Homo sapiens: one gene and its partner. The protein of the gene in region 1 purifies or fractionates together with the protein of each later gene. This does not show direct contact. Each region holds a gene or a part of one and is shown on either strand. Other genes may lie near its edges. The genes, in order: LBP and CFHR1.

Region 1 (3,830 bases):
TCTAATATCCGACTGACCACCAAGTCCTTCCGACCCTTCGTCCCACGGGTAAGGAGTCCCTTAGTTCCCCATGAGTGCAGACCGAGCCTACTAGACTCCAGAGGTTTCTCTTTAAAACCTCTGCATCTCTCAGCTTGACCAAGAGTGAGAAGGCCGGGATGAGACTCCCACTGAAGGCTGGGGTGCTGCTCCTTTCAAAGCCTAAATAACAGAGGCCACGCCCCATATCTTGTGGGACCACAGCTTGTCCAATCTTTTATTGGTGTTATCTAAGAATCCCAAGGAATGCTGGCATAGTCCATAAAATGTACCCTAATGAACAGCAGCTAACAATTACAGGGGGCTTCCTAGGTGCCAGGCATGTTCTTGGTTCTTTAAAAAATTATTTTTTGGCCAGGCATGGTGGCTCATGCCTGTAATCCCAGCATTGTGGGTGGCCAAGGTGGGTGGATTGCTTGAGTCCAGGAGTTCAAGACCAGCCTGGGCAACATGACGAAACCCCATCTCTACAAAAAATACAAAAATTAGCCAAGCGTAGCGGCACATAGCTGTAGTCCCAGCCACTGGGGAGGCTGAGGTGGGAAGATCACCTGAGGCTGCGAGGTTGAGGCTGCAGTGAGCTGTGATTGCACCACTGCACTCCAGCCTGGGCAACAGAGTGAGACCCTGTCTCAAAAAAAATTATTAAAAATGTTAGTTTTTGAATGGGAAATAAATTCTCAAGGTTCAACATTCAAAAGATCTAGAAGGTTATAGAGTGGAAAGTCTCACATCCACTCCTATTCCCTAACCACCCAGTTCCCATCTCAAGTTTGCCAATATTACCAGATTTTACATATCTTTCTGATGATATTCTATGTATATACAGGTTCACTATCTCTTATCTGAAATGCTTGGAAAAGCAACTCTGCCTACCTTCTTAGTGAAGCATTTTACCCCCTCAGCCTTCCAAATGTCTCCCTTCTAGAAGAGGATGTAGGTTTTACATATACATAACCAAAAGGTTCATGGGAGTGCTGTTTTTCCACGAATAGCCTCCTAAAAAGGAAGAGTCTTGCCCCAAATTAAACTCTGTACCTATCTCTAGTACACAGAAAATTAAGAGCACTTTTGAAATGGTGGAATCTAGGGCTGGTCGTGGTGGCTCACACCTATAATCCTAGCACTCTGGGAGGCCAAAGTGGGGGGGTAGCTTGAGGCCAGGAGTTCAAGACCAACCTGGACAACATAGCAAAACCCTGTCTCTATTTTAGAAAGAAAAGTTAAAAAAGAAAGAAAGAAAGAAAGAAATGTTCTGTGGAATATCATATTAAAAGAGTAATACGAGAAAATTAAATATTTTTTTTAAAAAAGAAATGGTGGGATCCAGCTGTGTCATATTTCGAAAACACTGGCATCTGACCTCAGCATGCCCAATTAGCAGAATGTGATGAGGGGATGGAGAAACCTTGGGAGAGGTAGGGAGGGAGAAAAAATGGGCCCAACTTTTCTGGAGGACAATTTGGCAATACCTGCCGAAAGTTTTAAAAGCATTGCTGGCCAGGTGCGGTGGCTCACACCCGTAATCCCAGCACTTTGGGAGGCTGAGGCGGGCAGATCACCTGAGGTCAGGAGTTCAAGACCAGCCTGGCCAACATGGTGAAACCCCATCTCTACTAAAAATACAAAATTAGCCGGGTGTGGTGGTGCACACCTGTAATCCCAGCTACTTGGGAGGCTGCAGAAGGAGAATCGCTTGAACCCCAGAGGCAGAGGTTGCAGTGAGCTGAGATGGCACCATTGCACTCCAGCCTGGGTGACAAGAGCAAAACTCCATCTCAAAAAACAAAACAAAAAAAGAAAGCATTGCTGTCCTTCAACCCAGCAACTCCACCTCTAGGAATGTTTTCCTGAAAAGAATAGCCAAGGGTGCTCACAGGAGGTGGTCATTATAATGGCAAAACCCTGGAGACAACTTGATGCCCAATAGAGTTTAATCCATCGCAGGACCCATACATAACGAAATACAACACAGCCGTGAAATAGATGGTGCAGACTCTGTGTCTGACATGGAGAGATGGCCAGTTTTGCCACTAGGAGAAAAAGGCACAGAGAATTTTGTTGGAAATAAAATCAATCGAAAGCAACTTCCAGCTTTATCTGACTCCCTCAGGCCTCTCCTGGCAGACTTGTATATTTTCTTCTCTTGATGTAATCTCCTAATTCTGCTCCCAGTTAGCCAGGCTCTACCCCAACATGAACCTGGAACTCCAGGGATCAGTGCCCTCTGCTCCGCTCCTGAACTTCAGCCCTGGGAATCTGTCTGTGGACCCCTATATGGAGATAGATGCCTTTGTGCTCCTGCCCAGCTCCAGCAAGGAGCCTGTCTTCCGGCTCAGTGTGGTAAGGTTCAGAGCCTTTGCAAATGCTGTTTCCTTTTCCCCACATGCTTTTCCCTTTTCCCCACATGCTTTTCTCCCCACTCACCACCTGGGTAATTCCTCCAGGTCTCAACTTAAATATTACTTCCCGAGAGAGGGCTTTCTTGCTGGCCCTTACCCCCAATCTACCTTACGCCCCTTGCCACTTTTTCTTGTAACACCCCATTATCTTTCTTCTCAGCGTTTACTACAAAGATACTTTGTAGCTGTCTGCAGGTGTATTTGTTTAATGCATGTATCTCTCACTATGTGAGTCTGGGCTATTGTGGGGAGAAAGGTATACTGGTGTTTGTCTATTTGTCTATTTTGACCTTGGAAGACTACATTTCCCAAGCTTCTTTGCACTTTGATTTCCACCCAGGTCAACCAATGGGAGGTACTGTCAGGAGAATGATGGCGGGGAGGAAGGATGAAGCCAGAGTACTATTTCCTCTTTCTTTACCACGGCAGAGGCTCTGGCTGTGACTATGTCTCCTCATGGTGACTTCCATAATTCCACCTCCACTCTTTGTTCCTCTAGTCCTGGGGTGGATACAGCCTCCTGTCTCTGGATAATCTCTGGGTGGCCTCACCAACTCTTTACTAGCTTCTCAACAATTCCATCACTTGTATAACCAATTCCCCGTATTAAATTCCCTCTGCGTTAAACATTGAGAGTCAGTTTTCCTTTTTTGATGGACTCTGTCTAATAGGGAAGGGATGTTGGGTCCTTTGGGGGCCTTGCTCCCTGGATGGAGAACTCTGCTCTCTTGTTTCTTGACTTTTGAAATCAACAAGTCAAATCTCTACCAGGGTAATTCTTCCTAGAGGCTATATCTGCAATTTAATATTGTTGTTATTGTTATCAAAAGTGTCATTATTAATATATTTTAAATTAAAATATAATTTACTGTCTGGGTGTGGTGGCTCACATCTGTAATCTCAGCACTTTGGGAGGTCAAGGCAGGAGAATCACACAAGGCCAGGAGTTTGAGAGCAGCCTGGGCAACACAGCAAGACTCCATTGCTACAAAAAAGAAAAAACAAATAGCCAGGCCTGGTGGCATGCACCTGTAGTCCTATCTACTCAGGGGGTTGATGTGGGAGGATCGCTTGAGCCCAGGAGATTGAGGCTGCAGTGAGCCATGATTGCACCACTGCACTCCAGCTGGGCGACAGACAGAGACTCCATCTCTAAAACAATAATAATAATTTATTAATGTTGTTACTAGGGCTGAATCTTGACCTGAGATAACTAGAAATGATCCTTTTTAGAGCTTTCCAAGGGTAGGTACTCTATACCTTCTCTTAGTAGTCTGTTCAAAGTTTAACTGCTAACATAAACAACAATTTCAAGTAAAAATGTTCAAGTCCAAGTTCAAATATTGTTTGAGCACCTACAGTGAGCCTTCTGGGAGTCTATGATCTAGT
Region 2 (3,830 bases), on another chromosome or scaffold:
AAACAAACGAACAAAAAAAATTAAAAAGGAAAGCTTTCAAAGCTGAAATCAAATATAAACACTTTCAAAAGAAGTTAACTCATGCTACTATATATATGATGAAACATATTTTTGGTTCTTTTATATGTATATATAGAAGAAAATATTTCATTTTCTTGCTCTATGGTTTTTATAATGAAATATTTTATGTTTGTCAACCTTTTAGGGACAAAAGAACCTCTTCATATATCTATTTCTCTCTTAACTCTCATAAATGTTTCTTAGGAGAAAGATCATTGCTATCTCCTTTGTTGCCTCATGTATCTGTCTCCCAATTTTTTTTTCTTTTAATACACCTGTTATCATTGGAGTCTGCTCTCTACATTTATTGGAGAATTAATATAGCTACACTGTGAAGGACCAAAGAAATTATTTATTGAAATATAAAAGTGAAAATGCTAAACCTCCTTTCAATATGCTAAAGAATGGTAAATTCAAAACAGAATATGTATAAAAATGACATTTAAAAGGAAAACTTTGATCAGGCTGCTGCGAAATGAATATTAGTAAAGAAATATTAGCAGTCAAATATATTAAAGATCAGTTTAAAAAAATTAATATATTTCAACACGTAGAGCATTTCCAGGTAACACAAGACAGTTGACATATTTATTCTTCATTGATTCTTATAGGAGGCATCTCAAAATAGGGGGACTACATCTCCCATCTTTCCAGCTTCTTTGGTCACTGTCCCTGTGATTATCAAGACCTTATGATCTTGTCTGGCATATCCTTCTCTATTCACTGAATGACATCCATTTAATGAACAGAGCATTTACTCACTGAGACACTTTGGTGTTGGTGACCATCCTTCTTCTGTGCATGTTATGCGAGTCCAAAATGATTTTGAAGGAGACACAAAATTATATTCACAGGAGTAATAGAAAACTTCCCCTGTAGGAACCTGGGAAAATGGCTTATATTTTTCTTCATCATATAGAATTCCATGGTTTATTTTTGGAAAATCACAAAATGTTGCTGGGAAAATAACATAAAACTGAAGAATTACATAATAAGTTACATAAATAAATCACTAGATTATATTTTAATCATCTCACTTATAGTGTTTTTCTTTCATTTAGCTTAAATGCCTTTAGCTTAAATGCTTTCCAGTGTACAAATTAGGAATGAAAAGCATCACTAACTAGGAGTACATGACTATTTGAGGAGGTAATTGTTAATGAATATAAAATTTATATTTTGGAGTGATATGAAATATGAACTCTCCTGCATTGTCTTCAAGAATAAAACCCACACACAACAATTTAAGAATGAAGACAGAGTGTAAGAGTAGCAAATCTTCCTGATCTACATAGTATACAGTAGAAAAGTGATAGGGTTGTTCTTAGCTCTCAATTTACTTATTTTCTCTATTCTCATTGACTGCCATAGGTGTCTCTGCCAGAAACTCTGTCCTATTTTTTTTTCTGGTGCAGTAAAGATGTTGGATATGTAGTTTTGTTTTTTGTTTATTAATATCATTTTGAATATTTTCTGGTTACAAAGTTAATATAGTTTCAGTGGAAATAATTTAGGGAATATAAGAAAATCACTAAGAACAACTCAATCAAGATAAAGTTAGAGCTAAATTCTGGTTAATGTTGTATATACAAATATGTATTTGTATATTTGTATTTATATATTTATACTTGTGAACACACACACACACGCACATATATATATATATATATATATATATATATATACAGTCAGCCCCACTCGTTTCACTTCGTCTGATTCAACCAACTGCAGATCAAAAATATTTGAAAAAAACAATAAAGATAATAAAACAATAAAAATAATGCAATTAAAGATACAATATAACAACTATTTTTACAGCATTTACATTGTATTAGGTATTATAAATACTCTAGAGATTCCTTAAATTGTATGAGAGGGCTGAGTGTGGTAGCTCATGCCTGTAATCCCAGCACTTTGGGAGGCTGAGGTGAGTGGGTCACTTGAGGTCAGGAATTTGAGACCAGCCTGGCCAACATGGTGAAACCCCATCTCTACTAAAAATACAAAAATTAGCCAGGTGTGGTGGTGCACGCCTGTGATCCCAGCTACCTGGGAGGCTGAGGCAGAAGAATCACTTGAACCCAGGAGGGGGAGGTTGCAGTGAGCGGAGATCATGCCACTAAACTCGAGCCTGGGGGCGACAGAGCAAGACTCCACCTCAAAAAAAATTAAAATAAAATAAAATAAATTGTATGGGAGGATATGCACAGGTTATGTACAAATACTACACCATTCTCTCTTAGACACTTGAGTATCCTTGGATTTTGGTATCTGCTGGGGGTGGGTAGCGTCCTGGAACCAATTCCTTGAGGATGCTAAAGGACTACTGTATATATGTATAAATACATCCATACACACTATGGTGCAAGATATATTAAAACAATGTAGAAAATGGGTGAAATCTTCATACTTTTTACTCTTTTTTTGTGTACACATACATATATATACACACATATTTTTTATTAGACTTTATACTTTATTTACAGGTTTTTCACAGCAAGATTGAGTGGAAGGTAGAGATTTCCTATATACCACTTCCTCTTCCCTACCACATGCATAAGCTCCCTCACTGTCAATATAATTACCACCCAAAGTTCATAGTTTATGTTGGGGTTCACTCTTGATGTTGTACGTTCTATGGGTTTGATATGCTTTATCTTTGAGTACGTATTTAGCTCAAGATATTTCCTCAATATAATACTGCTCTTTGTTTTTATGTCAAGATATTTTTGCAATATAGTACTGCTGCATAAGAAATAATTTTATTTTTCACCTTATTTGAAAGATGTGTGCAGAAATTAAGCTGACAAATCAAGAGAAATTTCTCTTTTTCATCTATCTAGAAGTAATGTTTAATGTTGCACAATATTTGAAATATTTTCACCTTGTGAAACCTGAAATTGATTATCTAACTGTTTAAAATTTGACATTAGATAGTTTTGGTAAAGGTGTTGAGGGAAAGACTCCCGTCTTGATAGTATTAACCTACCATAACTCTTTCAATTATCCTTCACTCCTCCAAAATTATAGTAGTTTATTTTCATACATTTGTACCTACATATTCTTTGCTATCCAGAATAACTTGGTTTTCATCAACCATTTATATTGTACCTATGCTTCAGAAAGAATTCTATGACATTCATCAAGTATTCATTGTGCATATCTGCAATGGTGCTAGCTAGGAGTGTTAATGTCTTCTTGCAAGCCTCCTTTACACAACCACCAATTTCAAAAGTAGAAAATAATTTTTATTGTCTCAATATTTTGATAGAATATTGTGAATACATTTCTTCTGGGATACACACACACACACACACACACACACACACACATATATATATATATATATACAGTCGTACAGTTATTCACCACATAATGACATTTTGGTCAATGACTGATCACTTATATGACAGTGGACCCATAAGATTATAGTGTAGCTGAAAAATTCCTATCACCTAATAGCCATCGTAACATTGCAGTGCAATATATTACTCACATATTTGTGGCAATGCCGGGGGTAAACAAACCTACAGCATTGCCAGTCACATAAAAATATGCCACACACAATTTTGTACAGTACGTAATACTTGATGATGATAATATAGAAGTGTTACTGGTTAATGTATTTCATATAGTATAATTGTTATTAGTATTTTATAGTTAACTTCTTCTATTGATTAAAAAAATTAACTGTAAAACAGTTAATGTTTCCTGAGGCAGGTCCTTCAGGAACTATTCTAGAAGAAACCTTTGTTATCATAGGAGAGGAC

Evidence for each region.
Region 2: the proteins of LBP (region 1) and CFHR1 purify together in Homo sapiens (affinity purification with western blotting, with the first as the bait; one study listed by BioGRID). This does not show direct contact.

Annotation. Positions count from the first base shown.
Region 1 is NC_000020.11:38,366,781-38,370,610, forward strand, and holds part of LBP (lipopolysaccharide-binding protein precursor), read left to right. Parts: coding exon 1-48; intron 49-2,214; coding exon 2,215-2,382; intron 2,383-3,830. UniProt on the Homo sapiens protein: Plays a role in the innate immune response. Binds to the lipid A moiety of bacterial lipopolysaccharides (LPS), a glycolipid present in the outer membrane of all Gram-negative bacteria.
Region 2 is NC_000001.11:196,822,664-196,826,493, reverse strand, and holds part of CFHR1 (complement factor H-related protein 1 isoform 1 precursor), read right to left. Parts: intron 1,018-3,830; coding exon 823-1,017; intron 1-822. UniProt on the Homo sapiens protein: Involved in complement regulation. The dimerized forms have avidity for tissue-bound complement fragments and efficiently compete with the physiological complement inhibitor CFH. Can associate with lipoproteins and may play a role in lipid metabolism.